Linked DNA regions of Homo sapiens: regions 1, 3 and 4 are each reported to be linked to region 2. The links are microRNA targets in miRTarBase. Many come from high-throughput screens and were not tested one by one. Region 2 holds a microRNA gene; each other region holds the end of a gene's coding sequence. Distances are from middle to middle.

Evidence for each region. The annotated mature microRNA hsa-miR-106a-3p reads CUGCAAUGUAAGCACUUCUUAC and lies in region 2 at 3,774-3,795, opposite strand. An mRNA with a match to its seed (bases 2 to 7 or 8) in the 3' UTR can be bound and repressed. Matches are read on the target gene's strand: a 7mer-m8 pairs with bases 2 to 8, a 7mer-A1 pairs with bases 2 to 7 and ends in A, and an 8mer does both.
Region 1: miRTarBase lists LILRA2 as a target of hsa-miR-106a-3p. Seed matches in the 3' UTR shown: 7mer-m8 at 1,885-1,891.
Region 3: miRTarBase lists AAGAB as a target of hsa-miR-106a-3p. Seed matches in the 3' UTR shown: 7mer-A1 at 2,643-2,649.
Region 4: the mRNA of FAM9C is a reported target of hsa-miR-106a-3p. The part of its 3' UTR that is shown has no 7-base or 8-base seed match.

What each region holds. Positions count from the first base shown.
Region 1 is chr19:54,586,199-54,591,352 of GRCh38, reverse strand. It overlaps LILRA2 (leukocyte immunoglobulin like receptor A2), which reads right to left. Exons shown (of 8, transcript NM_001130917.3): 7 at 4,293-4,343; 8 at 1,066-4,152. The coding sequence ends at 4,007. Among named protein-coding and RNA genes, the nearest start is that of LILRA1, 4.9 kb to the left of the region's middle.
Region 2 is chrX:134,166,435-134,171,588 of GRCh38, forward strand. It overlaps MIR106A (microRNA 106a), which reads right to left and starts at 3,844; the gene lies at 3,764-3,844. It overlaps MIR106AHG (miR-106a-363 cluster host gene), which reads right to left. Exons shown (of 2, transcript XR_007068340.1): 2 at 2,716-3,918. It overlaps MIR363 (microRNA 363), which reads right to left and starts at 3,018; the gene lies at 2,944-3,018. It overlaps MIR92A2 (microRNA 92a-2), which reads right to left and starts at 3,178; the gene lies at 3,104-3,178. It also overlaps MIR19B2, MIR20B, MIR18B and the pseudogene TIMM8BP2.
Region 3 is chr15:67,198,707-67,203,838 of GRCh38, reverse strand. It overlaps AAGAB (alpha and gamma adaptin binding protein), which reads left to right. Exons shown (of 10, transcript NM_024666.5): 9 at 242-291; 10 at 941-3,172. The coding sequence ends at 1,018. Among named protein-coding and RNA genes, the nearest start is that of AAGAB, 53 kb to the left of the region's middle. RefSeq lists an enhancer at 5,024-5,132.
Region 4 is chrX:13,033,581-13,038,734 of GRCh38, forward strand. FAM9C (family with sequence similarity 9 member C) reads right to left here. Exons shown (of 8, transcript NM_174901.6): 7 at 4,836-4,923; 8 at 2,037-2,438. The coding sequence ends at 4,861. Among named protein-coding and RNA genes, the nearest start is that of FAM9C, 8.5 kb to the right of the region's middle.

The DNA of each region.
Region 1 (5,154 bases), not on the chromosome of region 2:
TGCTGTCAGTCCATTGGAGGAGATGCCATTGCTGGGCAAGTATTCTCTCGAGAGCAGCCTATCTGCATTCCTGATGTCCTAAAGAATATCTAGTAATAAACCATGTCAAAGCAGGAGAGGGGTGAAAGACATGGAAGAGTTTCTTATGGGGTTTTTAAAAAAGTCCTTAGAAACAGTTCTTATCTGAGACCTGGCAACACGAGCCTCCTCTCCGTCAGGCCTTCCTGGCCCTGTGGGGTCTGAGTTTAACCAAAGTCATCTCATCCTTGCTCATGTGACTTTCCTACTGGGTATCTGCAGTGAAGGGATTGAGTTACAAAGTTTAACCTGAGCGTTTCAGGAGTTTGGTTCAGGGCAGGGTTTGTTTCTACATAATTAACAAAGGGTTAATTTTTCAGTGTTTTCTAGAAACAATCTAAGGTGCTTTATCAGTACCTGGGAATGCTCAAGACCTCAGCTTGAGTTCAAGCCTGCAGGTGAAAACAGGCATCTGTCCAGCCCACAGAGCAGTCATGGCACTTTGTCTTTCTCTCAGAACAAAGGAAAAAGTGGAGGAAACCGTGGGATCCTAGAGAGACTGTGGCTCCCTCTCTTCTGTATTTGTGGACAGAATCTGGGATTGCTTGGTTTGGTGACCCAGGCCACATTCAGCACTGAGCCACCTTCCCGGGTGTGCATGACACAGTCTCGCTTTATCACTGCTGGACCGGGCATCTTTGGCACTTGAATGTGAGGGTCTCATGGGCTCCACCATGCCAGGCATAACACAGAGCTGATTCTAAACTTGGGAGCATGGACACCGCAGGGCAGGAGCGGGTACAAAAATGCCCCTCATCAGTTTTCCTTCCTGAGTCATCCCTGGGAGAAACCCTGTATGGAAGATCAGGTGTGTGGGAGAAAAACCCACCCCAGAGGAATAAAAATCGAAGAGTCCATTAGAGAAAAAACAGGCAATTATAGAAATGAATTAGGAAGCTATTGTGATGTGAAAATAGTAAATTATATTAACACATTTAGAAATACTTTCATCAAGAACCAGACACTGCTGAAATGATAAACATTGTATTGGTGTAGAATATTTATTAAATTTTTCATTAGTCATCGGAGAAAAACTAGAAATGAAAAAAATAGAAAAGATAATTAATGCACACAAAGAATAGAGTGAGAAGAGGAAACAGATATATCTCTATGTGTCACACTTTCAGAATGAAGGAAATAAGGAGTATGTTAGTCAATAAATACTTGCAAAGGAAATAGTTGACATTTTTACAGAAATGAAAGATCATGAGTTTAATGTGCACAAATTCATAAATAACATTAATGTCTTAACTATGATAGAGCAAACGATATCTAGAATAGATACAAAGTAATTTTAAAACTACTGGAGAAAATGAAAATTATTCTCAAATGAATGACAAGCACATTGGGACTGAGTTTCCCAGGACTGAAAAGTGGTAGAAAAAATGATCGGGGGCTCAGGTTCAGGTTGGATGAATGGAAACAGCTGGCATGTGCCTGTCTCGTTAAGAGGAGTCAAAATGGTGAGTAAATACCGAAATTCTAAGTGGATCTTCTAGGACAGCATGATGGGGCTCACCAGAGAACCACAGGGACATGGAAAGCACAGAGGAGAAAAGCTGATAGGCAGGAGAGCCTCCGAACAAGGAGACGGGGTGAGTGTATTAGTCTAGGTTCCCTAGAGGGAGATAACTAATTTTAAGCCTTTTGATTTATGATACTGGGATGACTTTTTCCTCATTTAGGTCTTTTGTTATTTCTTTGAGCAGTATTTTAAAATTGTCAATGTATACGTATTGCATCTCTTTGGTTAAATGTATTTCTCTTTTTTTGAGACAGAGTCTCACTCTGTTGCCCAGGCTGGAGTGCAATGGCAAGATCTCAGCTCACTGCAACCTCTGTTTCCTGGGTTGACGCGATTCTCCTGTCTCAGCCTCCTGAGTAGCTGGGATTACAGGCGTGTACCACCACACCCACCTAATTTTTGTATTTGGTTAAATGTATTTCTATGCATACTTTTCTTGTAGACACTGTCATAAATTGACTTGTTCCCCCTAATATACACGTTGAAATCCTGAGCCCCATTAGCTATAAATGTGAACATAGTTGGAAATAGAGTCTTTGCAAATGCATTTAAGTTATGATCAAGGGATCATAACGAATTAGGATGAGTCCTAATCTGATCTGAGTGATATCATAATCTGAAGAAGAGAAAAGACACACACAGAAGAATGGGTGTGAAGACAGAGGCAACCAGGTAGGTGTAAGCATTGAGAAGATGGAGGCAGAAACTGGTGGGATGCTGCCCCAAGCCAAGGAGTGCCTGGACCAGCAGAAAGTAGAACGAGTCATTTAAGAATTCTTCCATCAGCCGGGCACAGTGGCTTACACCTGTAATCCCAGCACTCTGGGAGGCTGAGGCAGGTGGATAACCTGAGGTCAGGAGTTCAAGACCAGCCTCACTAACATGGCGAGACCCCCGTCTCTACTAAAAATACAAAAAATAGCCGGGAATGGTGGTGCACACCTGTAGTCCAGTAACTCGGGAGGCAGAGGCAGGAGAATTGCTTGAACCTGGGAAGTGGAGGTTGCAGTGAGCCGAGATTGCACCATTGCACTCCAGCCTGGGCAACAAAGCAAAACTCCATCTCAAAAAAAATTCTTTCATCGAAACTGCATAGTTCTGTTAACATTTTTCTTATGTTGTACTTGGATTTTTTTTTTTTTTTGAGACGGAGTCTTGCTCTGTCGCCCAGGCTGGAGGGCAGTGTCGCAATCTCGGCCCATTGCAAGCTCCGCCTCCCAGGTTCACGCCATTCTCCTGCCTCAGCCTCCTGAGTAGCTGGGACTACAGGCGCCCACCACCACGCCCGGCCAATATTTTTTTGTGTATTTAGTAGAGACGGGGTTTCACCATGTTAGCCAGGATGGTCTAGATCTCCTGACCTCGTGATCTGCCTGCCTTGGCCTCCCAAAGTGCTGGGATTACAGGCGTGAGCCACCGCGCCCGGCATGTACTTTGATTTTTAGGTGAGCCGTGTTATCTCCCACATCAGATATTAATAGGTTTGTCTTTTGTGGATATGCTAGGATAACAGTGTCAGAATTTCATTTGACCTGTGCCATAACACTGAAGTAGAAGTGATCATTGCCTCTGAAATAGAAAGGACTGTAGGTATATGGGTGAGCTCTCAGTGGGATGTGCCACAGGTCCCTGGTGCTCATTAGTGAAGACAGTTCTGTCCCTTGCTTCCCAACCCTGTATTCAGTGAGAACCCATTGGCACCTTGATTTGGGCCATGAGAAAAATATTTATGTCACAGAAATTGGTAGATACCACTAATTACAGTATTTTAGAGATGTCTTTTTCTGAATCAGCATAGCTGTGGTGTCACTTGAAATGCCAGTGTGATGATTCCAAGTGGTGATATTTCAGGAGAAATTACACAGATAGCATCTGAGAAAGAGGGAAGGGCTCATAAGGTACAGAGAGGGTGTCAGGGCAGCAGGGTGGATTTATGTTTTCCTGGTTGGAATCTGATCTCCTGTCGTTGATTTAGTTGGTGGTTCAGGTTTGGATCTCTGAACTGAAGAGACGGGGACTCAGTAAGTGACATCAAGGAGTGTGACAATGAGGAATAAGGAAGACTGTGTCACATGCCGTGGACCAGAGCACACAGGTGTGTGGAGGTGTGGACCCAACGGTGCCATGTGGGATGGAGCCTCATGTCTGGGGATGGGAAAAAAAGGGGATCCAGTCAAGGGAAGTCAACATTCATAGACAAAAAAATGTACCACAGTTTAATGATCTTCTAGGAATCACCCCAGACAGTTTCCTTACACTCAAATATTGATTGCTGTCTCTAGAAATGACCAGCATACAGTCCAGATAATGTAGGTCCTAGATTGTCCTCCAGAGCCTCCTGGGATCATCAGATCTGTCCCTGAGGCTCCACCACGCTGAAGGATGCATTGTCCTCTCTGCTGTTCACCTCCCGGCTGCATCTTGTAGGCTTCTCTGGCTGTGCTGAGCCTCAAATAGCAGAATCCCGAGGACCACCAGGACCAAGCCAGCCACACCCATGCGGATGAGATTCTCCACTGTGTAATCCTGGGGGTGTTGGCCTAGGGATGCTGGACAAAGAGGTCACAGAGGTCAGGGCAGATCGGAATCACCCCGGGACTCCTGTATGTCCACCCAGGGCACCCACCTCCCCTTTACAGGACCTGACCCTCTGTGCCAGTCCCATAACTGAGAGCATCTCCTCACTCACTAGTCGTGGAGTCTGTCTTGTTTTGTGATGGGCTGAGGGTCTCAGCTGCTTCTGAGAATCAAAACAGTGGAGAAGAGCCCTGAGCCCAGCCTCACTCCTGGGCTCTGCATTCTTCTTTTCCCCTGTGTCTCTTGACATGAGTTTTATGGAGTTCCTCAATAAACCCTTCCTCTGCTGTAGCAGGGTTCCCTCCAGTCTCCTCATTGAATTATTTCAGACTTCCTGTGTTCTACAAATCCAAACTCAGCTCCTGAGTCATTTGGGAGAGTTTTCCTGCATCCCGGGAGCTCAGCATGGATATGGTAAGTGGTCCCCAATACAGAAATAACCAGGACCTTATGTGCTCTCTGTGCAGCCTGGGACCTTGTGTGCTCTCTGTGTCCTCTCTGAGCCCTAACTGGCTGCAAGGAGCAGGTGCAGGACCACAGAAGCCAATGCTCCCCAGAGATGAGTTTCACGGATCCGCCAGCTGAGGACCCAGGCTCCATGGAGGAGGGGTTGGACCTCAGGGGCTCTTGAATGTCAGGAACACAAAGGGGTGAAAGTCTGGGTCTGCCTCCCCTTCATGCCCTCAACCACTTCACCTGGGGTTTCATCTTCCGTTTAATCCTTAGGTAACTAATTCCTCATACAGGCAGTAACCCCTAGAATGCAATACACGTGCATGCACACCCACCCACACACACAAATATGCATATGTTAAATGCTGGTGCTATCCGAGGTTCATAAATGAATACTTCTGCTCCAGCAAGTGTGAGTCTAGATAAGAAGACCAATAACAAACCTGTAAAGACCTGTCATGTCAAATATGTGAAGCATATGGATGAATACATATAAAAATGTGTTTAGATATACCTCCACT
Region 2 (5,154 bases):
TGATGACCTTGGAAAGCCATGGGATATTAAACTACCATCTGAACCAAAGATAGAAATTATACCTGGCAGTGCTTCTACTGAACTTACTGTAATTATTTAAAAATGAGCAAGCTATATATGTCGTATGTAGATATTACTAATTTTGCCCATGATTAATGACTTAAATTAACCCATTCCCAAGTATTCTAGACAAATGACTTCAATGCAAAACACTTGAAGAATTATTGGATAAGTCTGAGGTGAACAAAGGCGGAGCTGGGTGAAGCCGATGGAGCGGAGTTGCAGCACCTGGTGGCCGCCGAACAGCAGAAGGCGCAGTTTACTGCACAGGTGCATCACTTCATGGAGTTATGTTGGGATAAATGTGTGGAGAAGCCAGGGAATCGCCTGGACTCTTGCACTGAAAATTGTCTCTCCAGCTGTGTAGACCACTTCATTGACACCACTCTTGCCATCACCAGTCGGTTTGCCCAGATTGTACAGAAAGGAGGGCAGTAGGCCATCCCCCAGGAGAATGACAGAAGCAAAGGACTTATTATTAAGCAGACTTAAGGGCCAGTGGGGGAAGGCTGTCAACCCATTGTCAGATCAGCATCAGGCTGTTATCAAGTCTGTTGGTCCTAAAAAGTAAAAGATGAAATGTTCAAAAAAAAAAAAAAAAGAATTATTGGATTAGTCTAACTTGAGCAAATATAGAATCAGAATTTTTGAAGCTAGAAAGGGTCCTCAGATCATCAAGTTCGGCCCTAACTTTAGGTGAGGGAATTGACTCTAGTGGGCAGAGTGGCCTACCCTAAGGAACACAGCTCCTCCACACAAGCCTATTAAAAGTGGAAACTGCAATAACTGACTGCATACTAGCCACGTTAGGTAAAGCACCAGTGAACCACTAGGACAATAAATTTGTATTATTAAAGTGGAGGTTTGGTGGTGTTAAGGATTACAACAAATAAGCTTTAATCCCCTCTTTTACTGAGCTACTTTATTAAAGGGCGGGAGACCCTTTTCTTTGCTGCCACATCAAACTTAACTATGATTAGGCACCAACAACGTAGTCAGCACTAGACAACACAGGAAATACCTGTAGTTATTTATGTTTGTATAATTGCCTCAAGCATTAGTCACTTTTAAAAAATTACACACACATACTTAATACTGGACGACAGAATTTACTACCCTAAGTCTCTTTTCATTAAGATTTCACTTCATCACTAACAATTAAAATCCATCCCCCCAGCCGCCACCACCAGAGAACTTACTTAACCCACATATCCTTGAGGTAGACCAATGTTATCACTGTATTTCCCCTAATGAGGAAATTGAAGCCTTAGGCAACTAGCTCAAGATTAAAATGCAATTCAGAGAGAGTTCCTCTTACTGATTAAAATGGACTGATGTTATGAGGAAAAATCAAAAGGGTTTCAAAATTAGAAAATTCCATGGCACCAGGAAGTAAGAATGACACATACTGATACCATCTTTTAGTTTGGCAGCACCTTTTTGATGAGAACTAAATGTTCATGTTGGCAGACAGTAAAACTACCACAAGCCTCGTTTCTTCATTTGCCAAATACATGATGTTAAAGATTAACATTAAAATATGAAACATAGAACTGGAAAGCAAGCCAGTCCCTGCTTCGAGTTCTTTTAATTTTATGAAGTTTAAAATAAACAACTTCCTTTGTTAACTTTGTCCTAGAAGCTGTCGTTAGCTGTTTTCGAGCAGTGGTTCTGCAAGTATGGTGTCTTGACCAGCAGCATCAGCTCCTAGGGAAAGGTTAGAAATGCAATTCCTTACCTGTAATGCCAGCACTTTGGGAGGCCAAGGTGGGTGGATCTCTTGAGGTCAGGAGTTCGAGACCAGCCTGACCAACATGGTGAAACCCCGTCTCTACTAAAAGTACAGAATTAGCCAAGCGTGGTGGCGCACGCCTGTAATCCCAGCTACTCAGGAGGCTGAGGCAGGAGAATCACTTCAACCCGGAAGGTGGAGGTTGTGGTGAATGAGAGATCGGGCCATTGCACTCCAGTCTGGGCAACAAGAGCGAAACTCCGTCTCAAAAAGAAAAAAATAAAGAAATGCAATTCCTTAGGCCCCATCCAGACCTATTGAATGAATCTCTGGAGATGGGGTTGGCTGGCTGTGTCTTAGTAAGTGCTAAAGTTTTAAGAACCACTAGAGGATCCAAATAACTTTTGGTGTTCAGTCTCAAACCACTAATTAGCTGCGCATGAGAAATTTCTGCTTTAGGTTAGTCACCCTATGGAGCCCCCGAACCCTAAATATTAACAGTAGGCCCACATCCAGGTTTCCATCTGCTAGACTCCAAAGCAAGGCAGCAGCCATCCCTCTCAGTAGCCCTGCCACCAAATCCTCTTCTCCGAGAACCCCAAAACAGAGTTTGATTGACAAGTTCATTCTTCTCTCCTGTCAGACCTCAAAATGTGCCCAGTTCCTTAAAGGTATGTGTCCCATTGGTTTACAACTCTTCATTCCCTTCCTAAGAATGAGCACGTGTACTAAAACAAAATTAGTACATGTCATCCAAATATTGTCAGGGTAATAAAATTCCTAAAATTAGGCATCTTGGTGCTTTATGTAGATGCAAACTTGAAAAGCAGCTATGTCCAAGTTTTCCTTTAGGATCCTCCCAAGAGATATTTTACAAACTCCTCTAGCATTGCTAATTATTTTTTTTAAAAAAAAAAGAGTCATTTTTTCAGATCTATAAATTTCATTTATTTTGAGGTTCATTCACATTCAGTAACAATCTGATCATTCACCAAAGTTCCAAAACACATACTTTATAAATTAGCTATCATAGTTTTTAGAAATCCAAATATATTTCAAATTATTTTTTAATAGCAGCAACTAGAGAAAGGATTTTTTACCATCTAGCTTACTGTAGCGCTGATCAGGAATGTCGCCAACAAAGGTCCTGCGGTTTACAGATGGATACCGTGCAATTTTTCTCCTATGATACTCATCAAAATTGCATCGTGATCCACCCGACAACAGCAAAACAGATCATTTTACAATGACTAAATATCAGAACTTACGGCTTTTAAAAGTTAAAATAAGAAGACGATAAAAATCCTCCTTTCTTCCACAGGCCGGGACAAGTGCAATACTTTATATAGAACACAAGTAATGCAACAAATCCCCACCCAGGGATGAATGGGCATGAGTGCTGGAGATACGCATGAAGGTGTGTTCACACAGACGTAGGAAGCACACATTATCACAATCAGTTTTGCATGGATTTGCACAGCCACATATACATATATACGCTGAAATGCAAACCTGCAAAACTAATTGTAAGTAGCAATGTCTTTGAATATTCTCTCCATCAACAAGAGATTTGTTATCCAAGAGTACTGGAAGTGCCCATACTACAGTAGAGTCATGCCAAAACTACCTGCACTATGAGCACTTTGGTACTACTAGGACCCAATCTTATCCTCTGTACACAACTGTACACTGCACAGTCCCCACCATCTGTTCCCAACAAACAATAAAAAGGCAAAAAACAAACCACTGAAATGTGTCCTATTCAAATTACTACTCAAGGCATACTTTTAAAATGCTGTATATTAGGCAGCCTGTGCCAGAAGGGGCATTTAGGGCAGTAGATTCTAAGCTGCTTCACTAACTGCACTAGATGCACCTTAACACAAGAGACACATTATAAGAAGCAGCTCAAAAGCATCAACTACTTAATTATGCACAAACTACAGTTCTCAGTAGCCATTGACTAAATCACCATGGTAATGTAAGAAGTGCTTACATTGCAGTAGATCTCAAAAAGCTACCTGCACTGTAAGCACTTTTACATGGCCAAGGCCTATTCCTGTAGCAAAATTTTAAGTCTTCCAGGAGCTCTTCTTTTCCGTCCTCACAGATCCATGCAGACTCACCTGGTTAAAACAACAAAACAAACACACACATATTAGAAACTAAACAAGTAAACTACTAGTTAATATTCCTGAAACAGGCTTTCCTTTGGCTTACAGAGTCTAAGCTAGGTTTTGTGGTTTCAACCAAATCCTGAGAAATATTAATAATCTCAATTATTTACACAGAATTGAACACGAATAACACTGGCAACTGCAAAAAGTCCAATTCTTATGTATAAGCAGATTTTGGACTCCCCCTCTCCATCTAAGAAAATTTGATATCTGCATCTCAGTAATTTGCAGGCACATTCTATCCACCCTGATTTTATAAGAGGAGGACCTAGAGAAAGGAGCATGTAAAACCCAGGATGAGTATTCGAGTCTTCAGATCATTCAGAGCTTTTGGGCTCCATACGGAAAGTGACTGTTAGATTAAATGAATATTCCCAGCCCCCACCCCATTAATAGAAAATGAGAGAAATTTTAGAGCTGGTTTAAGAAACACAGCCTTACAGTCTTCACATAATGCACAGATGGCTGAGAGATGTCACATTTTGATCTATTTCAAAGGGCTCTACTTCTGTTTAAACATTTATGGACCCATTTTCTCCATTAAACCAAAGTAGGCAGATTAGCTCTTCTTCCCTTCATGTCATTATCTTCCATAAGAAAACCTTCTCCCATTTCCAAGTGCTTATTTTACCTAAGAACATACAGCAAGGAAGTGAGCCTCTATGTGAAAAAGGCTCACAGGGTCCCCTATCTCTTCCATGATGGGGTAACTTTTGTTTAAAAGAAAAACAAAAACGTTTGGGACAGAATCTGTAATACGTTAAACGAGTGAGGGAATTTTAAATGTTGAACTTTCGTCACGATATCTTATGCCACTAAATGAGTCTTTAGAAGTCTTTACAAACTAAACTGATTTATAAAACTTATACATCAATCTGGAATCAATTTTCTATTAGGGAAGAATGGATTTAGTATAGAAATGAGAAAAATAACATTTTTCCCCTTAAATTGGGTTTCTACACCTGTGAAGATTTCTTTTCCATTAAAAAAAAAATACTCCAAACTTGACTCAAAATGCATAGTATTTGCCAACCCAACCTGGCCAAACTGAGCCCCACAGCCATCAGACAGGGCGCCCTTCTAGTTACTACCTTTTGCTAATTAGCGGTTCATCTGGCATCCCTCGCGCACGCTGGGCAGTCACTCTCCAATCCCCTTAAATTGCAAATAATAATAATAATAATA
Region 3 (5,132 bases), not on the chromosome of region 2:
TCCTGCTTTTGCCTTGTTTCTTTCAATGTGTTACATAAGGTGGAAACTGTAAGATCCCTACCAATTTACTCACATCATTCCCATCTGGAAAATTTGGAAGACTTAAAAACTTCCTAATACATGTAATGACTACATCATAAACATGTCTTTGAAACCCGTCTCCCATCTTCTAGTGTTATTCATATACTCCAGGTTATCCTGTGCTATTAGACAAATTTCTTAAGATATATTTTCCCCCTAGACAAGGCTGCGACGCTTCCTCATGAGCAAAGAAAAGTGCATGCAGAAAAGGTGAGACAATCAGCCAGGTATTTATTGAATACCTATAAAAGGTCCAGTGCTATTATTATAATTATATATCACACTTGTGTATTTCTGAAGGGTCTTAGTGTGAGCTTTTCATTGAATATTAACTTCTAACTAATTAAATATTTATACAGTAATAGTATAGTTGCTGCAGTCAAACCAAGATTTTTCACCTGGATGGTGAGTGATGTGGAACCTTTATTGAGACTCAGGATGTTTGCCTTTCTAACTATTGGGCCAGAAAACTCTTAGTTGTTTTGTTTTATTATTACCAACACAACACATGCTATTGGCAGGAAACTTGTATGGTTGATGGTGTTCCCTGATATGTGTCATAATTTATCCTGTTCCCTTTTGGACATTTAGGTCATGTGCATTTTTTGCTTCTATAAATAACAAAGCTGTGCATGTCTTTACACATCATCTTTGTATACAACTCTAAATATATCCTTGGTATAAATTTCTAGATGTGGCGATCATGGGTCAAATGGTATTCAAGGGTTCTGATATGTGTTGCCAGAGGACTGGAGGGCAAAGTGCAGAATTTTAGGTCTCAGTCAGTTTAAGGTATGACATATGAAACAAGCTGAAATGTAGCTGTTGCCTAAAATTTGTTGCATGCTTCTCTCCACAGGTGGCCAAAGCATTCTGGATGGCAATCGGGGGAGACAGAGATGAAATTGAAGGCCTTTCATCTGATGAAGAGCACTGAATTATTCATACTAGGGTTTGACCAACAAAGATGCTAGCTGTCTCTGAGATACCTCTCTACTCAGCCCAGTCATATTTTGCCAAAATTGCCCTTATCATGTTGGCTGCCTGACTTGTTTATAGGGTCCCCTTAATTTTAGTTTTTAGTAGGAGGTTAAGGAGAAATCTTTTTTTTCCTCAGTATATTGTAAGAGAGTGAGGAATACAGTGATAGTAATGAGTGAGGATTTCTTAAATATACTTTTTTTTTGTTCTAGGAATGAGGGTAGGATAAATCTCAGAGGTCTGTGTGATTTACTCAAGTTGAAGACAACCTCCAGGCCATTCCTGGTCAACCTTTTAAGTAGCATTTCCAGCATTCACACTTGATACTGCACATCAGGAGTTGTGTCACCTTTCCTGGGTGATTTGGGTTTTCTCCATTCAAGGAGCTTGTAGCTCTGAGCTATGATGCTTTTATTGGGAGGAAAGGAGGCAGCTGCAGAATTGATGTGAGCTATGTGGGGCCGAAGTCTCAGCCCGCAGCTAAGTCTCTACCTAAGAAAATGCCTCTGGGCATTCTTTTGAAGTATAGTGTCTGAGCTCATGCTAGAAAGAATCAAAAAGCCAGTGTGGATTTTTAGACTGTAATAAATGAGGCAAAGGATTTCTATTCCAGTGGGAAGAAAACCTCTCTACTGAGTTGTGGGGGATATGTTGTATGTTAGAGAGAACCTTAAGGAGTCCTTGTATGGGCCATGGAGACAGTATGTGATAACATACCGTGATTTTCATGAAGAAATTCTTCTGTCTTAGAGTTCTCCCCTGCTGCTTGAGATGCCAGAGCTGTGTTGTTGCACACCTGCAAAACAAGGCACATTTCCCCCTTTCTCTTTAAAGCCAAAGAGAGATCACTGCCAAAGTGGGAGCACTAAGGGGTGGGTGGGGAAGTGAAATGTTAGGCGATGAATTCCTGAGCACCTTGTTTTTCTTCCAAGGTTCGTAGCTCCTCTCTGCCCTTCCAAGCCTGTAACCTCGGAGGACTATCTTTTGTTCTTTATCCTTTGTCTTGTTTGAGTGGGTCAGCCCCAGAGGAACTGATAAGCAAATGGCAAGTTTTTAAAGGAAGAGTGGAAAGTACTGCAAATAAAAATCCTTATTTGTTTTTGTAGACTTTGTAATGCATATCATTAGCCCTCACTGTGATCATTACTGCTGTGGCTCTGAACTGGCACATAGTACAGTGGATGGAAGGTGCCCGCACACCAGCTGAGAACTGGTTCTGGCCTAGGTGGGCTCTAGAACCATTTACACAGCATGAAAGAAACAGGTTGGGTTAGGAGCAGAAAGAAATAAGGCTCACACCCCTCCAGACACTACCTTATAAGCACTGCAGAACCTGAAACAGATGGCAGAAGGAATGGAATGCTACAGGGGCCAGCAGGAGTGACCACAGGGAGGGGACAGCTCAGTGACTGGAGCATTCAGGAAGAGGCTTTCCAGGGAACACTGGACATTGCTTAGTGACCTTTTGTTCCTTTTTTTTTTTTTTTCTTTTACTGTTCTGAAAGACTTTGAGTCTGTGGTTCACCACCAGCCCATCAGTGTTTCTTTGAGGTGATTGCATTAGGGAAGTTGGCTCTGGGATTGCAAAAAAAAAAAAAAGGTGGAACATGTTTTCCTTAAAAGATGGAAGGTTTTAGAAAATATACTAGGCCATCTGGTTAGAAAAAACAGACCAGACTAGAAAAAGCTGTGAATTTGATTTTGTAGATTAAACAAAGCCAGATGATTAAAATGTGATTTATTTATAAACTGTGCTAATGTCTATTATTATGATTTTGTGGTTTTTTATTAGGGGGTATGAGTGAGGGAAGCCCTATATCCTTCATTGGATTAGACATATATAGTGAATAGTGGAAGAGTCTGTCAAGCTCACTATTTTAGAATTTACCCTGCATATGTAATGTCATGTTTTTAAGACCTCAGCTATGCAGGGATATTGGCCTCTTCTAGGGACATATGGGATGAAGGTCTCTAGTGAAATCTACTAAAAGCCCATGTTAGAATAGTGATCATGAGCTAACACTACAGTAATAGCTGCAGTCTATCTAAAGTGACCTATGTTCATGCTACCACAAGTTGTTACAGAATTGCCAGCTGGAATTTAAAATAAGAGACTTGGTTTTTGGTTGTTTTTTCCTTAAACATTTCTTGATTTGCATAACATAGTGTTTGGCACATAGTGTTTGGCACATAGTAGGCCCTTAGTTTTGGTTGTAAAGTATGGTTTGTGTTTGATGAATATGATCACAAAGTTTGAAGGTCCATACATAAGTGCTGGAAGGTAAGGGAAGACAAGAATAAACATTTTTCCCCTGAGAAAATCATGTGTTATGTAATAATTTTAGAGTGATGAAGACATAGATATTTTTATAATTTTAAAATATGCCATCTTGCCAGAGTATGAGAAGATTGACAGAACCAGTTTGCTTGCTCTCTATTTATAGAACTTGGCCACGTCTAATTCAGAGAAGCTAGAGATTCAGGGAAGCTAGACTTAGATGGTTGAGTAATATGGGATGTGGTTCAAGGACCATAGAGCATGTTAGGCCATTCCTGCAAACTACTTCTAACACGTGAAATGTGATATATGGCTAATTTCCTGGTCCCACTGTGGAGAGGTCGGGATCAACATTTTTGCCATGGCTTGTCAGATTCATTTAACCTTGGGCCAGTCTCTTAACAATGGGCGTTGAGAGAGCATGTGGAATGCCCCTTGCCTTGCCTTGGCCTGCCATGGAAAAGCAGTCTTAGAAGAATCACTGTCTAAGGGTAAGATGAGAGCTCTGTAAACTATTCTGAGCTTCAGCGTTTGCCGATACAAAGCTAAATTTAGCAAACGTGTCCAGTGTGGTCAGAGGTTCTGATTCATTAGGGGTTCTGATTCATTGAACGTTCTGATTGATGGAGACAAGAGTTTCAGTGAATGTTCTAATGCATTAGATTTGCTCTTCACTCTCTGCTGCCCCTGTTAATTTTACAATAGACAATTTAGCTACAGCATTATGTCATTAAGTACCAAATCTTATTAGAGGACTATAGGTGGAGTAAGTGTAAAAAAATCTGGTCATGTGTACTGAACCCAGTACTATGTTAGTACAAGGTTAGTTTGAAAACAACCCCGTTAACTTTCCCATAATTTGTATGTCTCATGAAAGTAGAATGCTGACTGTGCGGCATAATTCTAGTATTTTCGATTCCACTCAGGGTTTAGTGATCCATCCTGGCATCTTTGGCATGTAAGCTCTTACAGAAAACGTCTTAGAGATCCTGTAAAGTTCATACTTTGGCATTACATATGCCTGTTGTTAACATCACAAAGCTTGCTCTTAATGTAGGTATCCTTACTCAGAATTAGGTTCTAGCATAGGAAGTATCTTGCTCTATCCTAAGTTGTTCCTCTGGTTTGCAGAAGAATTAACAAAAAAGGTAACAGCAATAGCGTATTCCCACTCTTAGGGATTTACAGTTCTACTTTGTTTCCTTTTGAAAACATTGTGATTCAAAACCTGGCCCTAATGGTTATTACTGCATCTTTGGAACACAGGCCTGGGGGTGAAAAGAAAAAAAAAAACTTTTAAAACCCCTTTCTGTGTATCCATTGTTATGCCCAAACACTTCCTCCGCACAACTACAGATCTGGGAGGCATAACCAGGCACCCCAAGCTGCTTGCTTATGCCCAGTTTACTGACTAGGAAGCCTCTTGGGTTCTCTCTAATGAAGTGTCCAATCATTGCTCCTGCCCTTGCTATTATCAGCCAGGTGGCTTTAATGCTATTACACAAAAATGTGGACTAAGGCCTAGGGTAGGAACTTTATGGAAACAACAGCATAGTTTAGGAGAGAAAAGATTCTTTTAATCTGAATTCCAAGGACATGGCCTGCAACAATCATGCTTCCCCAGGAAATTCTCAGGAAGTCATTAATGGTGAAGTTAGACGGCCTTAAATTTGTTCCTTCTACCCTGGTGAGAGCAGAAACAAGAACCCAGGGTCCAGCCAACACTGACTGTGAACGTCGTTGGTGCCAGAATCTGAGCTAGGTGTGGCAGAGGACACAGACTTGAGTCAGG
Region 4 (5,154 bases), 120 Mb from region 2:
GTATCAAAAGAAACCCTCTCCAAGAGGCAGAGGCAAGAGACTCTGTATCTCCTGGGTTTCAGTTGCTGAAGGAAAGGACTTGCCACTGGTCTGTGGGAAAACTTTCTTGGGAGCTGTCTTTGCGTTTGAACTCTGAATTTTGTTCAGTACATCATTGTTCTAAGGATATATTTAGTGTTTTGTGAGTGTACATTTCAACATTCAGCTGTTGAGTGAGACAGTATTACGAGACATGATGCTCTTGATATCAGCCATTCTTCAAAGGGGGCGTTTATTATGGAACAAAAGAAAATATGTGCTTCAATCTAGAATTTAAAAGCACTAACTGCAACGTTTCAAGCATATATAAATAAATGTTATCTGTCTTACCATTTTCGGGAGAAAAGTGAATCTTTACATTTGTTTTAGTGTGACTTGTTTCTGATATTCTAACCTAAAATTTCATGGTCACAAAAAAGTACAAATTAAATGTTCTCTTTATGAAAAATAAAACAGGGACTATAGCACAGGTGATGTGAGAAAAATAGTCACTAAAAAAAAAAGGAACCAAGAGTGAACAGTGAAGTAATCTATGGACTTGGGGTGATAATGATATGTCAATGTAAGTTCATGGGGTGTAAGAAAGGCACCACTCTGGTGGGGGATATGGATAGTGGGGAAGGCTATGGTAGGAGAACAGGGGGTAAATGAGAAATCTCTAGACCTTCAGATCAATTTGTTGTGAACTAAAAACAATTCTAAAAAATAAAGTCATATATATGTGTATGTGTGTGCATATATTCACATATACGTATATGCATATTATATATGTATAGATACGTGGAATGCATATATACATAAACACACACACACACACATATATATACACATTTATACACACACATACACACACCCCTAATAACTTTTAAGGACAAAAACTTTCTTCCCTTCAGAATATCTGCCAAAGTGACTTAAAGTACACCTTTACTCATTTGAGGTGGTAAGGGGTGGCATAAATATCAACTGTTTCATCACTAAGTACATTGTGTCCTAATTCTTGTCCTTCCACTATGGAATAAACCGTTATATAGCCCAGTGTGTATAATAGAACTCTCATATGGACCTCTGCAGATCTCAAATGAGGATCTTCTTAGAAACTTGAAGTAGTAGTTAGACTTATACACCAACACATGCTTTGGGTAAAAGGAAAATCCTTTATGAAAATGCAAACTTTAGGAATTAAATGCTCCCCATAAGGACTCACTTATTCCTGCATAAGTGATTGCAGGCAGAAAAACAGAATCTGAATGAACTTGTTTTTCTTTTTTTCTTAAACTTGGAAAACCTAGAAAAACAAGAGTGGTATATAGGGGCCAATTAAAATAAAAAGCACAAGGAAAAATGAGAGGAAGTCGCTCCTCTCCTCCCAATGGGAGTATTGTGTTTTGAACAATTCATGAATGGAATTTCAGAAACTCAGCAAAAGAATACATTTAACTGACTTACTCCAAATATATTCTGAATTTCATATTTACTAAATAAAGTGTTTCCAAATGAACATTTTGTATGTTGTTACATGTAACAACTGCACATTACAAAAGGAAAGGTAGGAGAATTCATCACTTAAGTTTTTAGATGCATGTATACTTAAACTTCCACATACTCCACAAATACTAAACTCGAAAAACAAAGCACCCTACATAATTTACCTTGCCACAGATGTGAAATAATTGTAAGCATACATAAATGTTAATAAAATACTTTGAATCAATGTTAAGGGGAGATATCACTGAATGGTGGACCAAAACAAACCAAATGGCAATTTGATGTCTGTGGAAATGACATACCCAGAAGCCGGTGGCTCAGCACTGATATTAATATATCTTGCTCAGTTGTCTCAATCATTTATAGTAGTTTAATTTTTTCAAGAACACAGATGTTAAGGTACTTTTAATAATTTTGAAAGGCCACAGAGTTTATCTATTTTTTGAAGTCTTGCTTTCATTGGAATTGCTTCTTTAACTTAATGAGTAAATACAAAGAATGCACAGATAAAATAAGGGTTTGTCTTCTTTTATTAGAGAAAAATGTACTTTTCCATGCCCGTGCTTTCCACATTTTGGAACTGATACAGATCCACAGAGGCCAAACCTAAAACTAAATTATCTTTAATGTTAAAATTTAATTGACTGTGTATGTAACTGTGCAATTGCTGCTTTCTCACAGAACTGTCTAGGGTTCATTCAACAGATCATAGAAACGTGGTCTGGCATTTAACAAACAGACTAATAATAGAAGAGATATACTAATTTATACAAGAATTAACTAAACACTGTCATGTGGTTTAGTGTAGCTCAAGTTATGCATGTATCATATAACATAGGTTCAAGTTCTTTTGTCAGTCACCAGAATAACAGAGGTTGAAGATACATCTGAATAAGTGCCAACTCTTGCTGCAGCTGTTTCAAAAAAATAAATTTAAGTAATTGCGATACACATTTCTACAAATAAAATATTCCAGTGCTTACATCAATCCTGAGTTTTTAAGATAAAATATGCACTACTTACAATTACCACAATATTATTTTGGAACATGGCAATTTATTTTTTAAGTTGACTCTCTTCACCAAAAAGAGGGCTTTCATTATACTCTTCCAAGTCCTCACACTCTAAAACAAAAAGTCTAGTTCACTGACAAACCATCACTTTACAACTCACATTTTAAAGAGAGTAAATTAAATGTCAAAAGGAAACAGCTTTTAATATTCAAAGGATGCTGGTCATTTATTTCAAATTTAAAAACTGTAATCAGTACATGGAGCTCCAAATACTTAAAATTTTTAATGCCAGATTTTAGTGAAATATTATTATAGCAGGTCCAACAGTCATGTACTTTGCTTGAAGAAAATGGTTTGATGAATATGTTATGGTCAAGATGGAGCAAAAACAGAAAAAGACTGGTAGTCTTAGATCATGAAATACCATATTTTTTCACCAGATAGTGACCCATTTGTTATCACTAATAGTCGACATAACATGGTTTCCACTGAAGGGATAAAATGGTCTGTGACATGACCTCATCAAGTTAGAGAAAACATAACTATGTTTGAAATATATACTATTCTCTCAACAAATAGTTCAACAGTTCCTACTCCCTAAAAAGTGGTATGTTAATGCTGAGGAAGATGTAAAAAATGAATACACAATCTCTTCCATATTCCTGTGACATGAGCAAATATGCACGAATAAAAAAAATAATACAAAACTTATGTAACTGCTGTGGAAGAGCAACTCACTCGGACATGTAGCCAAAAATGGAGACTGATGTCCACTTAGTTGGCAAAAGATTTCAATCGATCAAAAAAAAAAAAGGACTTTAAAAGCATTGTGAGGGAAGAGCATGAGCAAAGCATGAGAGTAATGGAGAGGTCGTTCAGAGAAGGCTGTCAACCTGGAGAGGCGGGAAGAAAGACAGAAGGCAGTAAAACAAGCCTAAGAGGGGGTCATGTAAAGGGGAGAGTCTCTGAATATCTAAGAACTGACATGTGGATACCACTGATAGGCTGGGAAGAGTGAAGGGCTAGAAGCATTTTAGGAAGGGAAGAGTTTTAGGAAGATAGTATTTCTGATCAATGAAGGGTGGCTCAGAAGAGAAGAGAGAACTCAGAAAAGAGTTTAATAGTACAAGCAAGGAAGAATGAGTTCTTGAACTAGGGTTGCCTCAGTGGCAATTTAAAAAAAAGAAATTTAAGGACCATTGCAGAGTAAAACTTGCCTCATGAAAACTGTATGTGAAAGATAATGGACTCAGAAGAGTCCAAGATGATACCGAAGTTCCTACCCTAAGTGGTAACATGTAGCATTAACATTGACAGGAAAACTTTTCTAGTCTCATGTTCATACCAATTAATAAATGGTTTCTGGGGAACATTATAGCAACATGTTCTCTACTTGTGACTTCTATATAAATAACCGTTTTGTGTATAGATAATCTTTGAGTTGCTTGAAAATTCTATTTTCAAACTCTTTTCCCAGTTTATTTAACACATCTCAGTTAGTGTAGAGGAGTGACATATGAACATGTCTTTCCACAAGGTTATTAAAAAGAATATCTTACCTCCCAGAAGGGAATTCCATTGCTTCCTAAATAATATACATCTACATGAAGAAGCGGTCATTGTCCGATGACAATTTGCTAATGTGCTGTACGACAGCAGATAATTCACAATTCACAACATGTTAATAATCTGCTGGCTTTCCCATTCTGTTATACATCTGAACCATCTCTTATGATTACAAATTGTCATGTAAAACCATTACTAGTCACTAATAATTTTGAAAGTGAATATGCCATAAAACACTCCTACATTACAGCAGAAAACAAAAGAGATACTCAGTAGTTACATTTGCCTACTTCCTATTTAACTAAAACTCTTGAAACAACACAAGTAAAAAAGACATCCAGAAAGGACTTATGGACTTTCTGCCTTCCACTAAAGATTTGTCGCTGATCTCCTAAAAACTGAAAATAAAGTCTTCATTAATGTGTTCATAAGGTATCAATTTTTATACACAAGATGTATATTTCTAGGTAAAATTTCCAATTTACCTTTTCCTGTTCTAAATAACTCCTACAAAACTATTCATGAATCCTAAAAATACTGTTTTATGTTATTTTATGTTATTTACTACTTATGTTAAATCTGGAACAACACATTCAAAGTGAAAATGGTAAGTAATTTAAAATGTATAACCAAAATGTCTTTCCATACATTCAGAAACAAGCAGATTGTCTTCTATTTTTATGCATGTGTTGTATTTTATAAGAACGTATTGTGTTACCAAATAGAACAGACCTTTGTGAATTGCTCGTGTGGTGGCTCAATCTCTTTCAGTTCCTTTCCCATCTTGTTGCCACCTCTTTTGTTGCTCTTGAAATATTTTCTAGAGGCACAAAACAAAAAAGTGATTAAAATTGGGTAAATTTTAATACTTATAAAACATTCTGCATTAAAGAAATACTCTTTAAATCAATACTTCTGAACACTTTCTTTTAGACAACGTTTATGACCAATTTGAAACAATTGTGTTCACCACTCATGTGCTAAAACAATAACCTTTTTCATCAGTCATGGAGTAAAGAATTTTCTTTCTTATACATATTCAACACATACG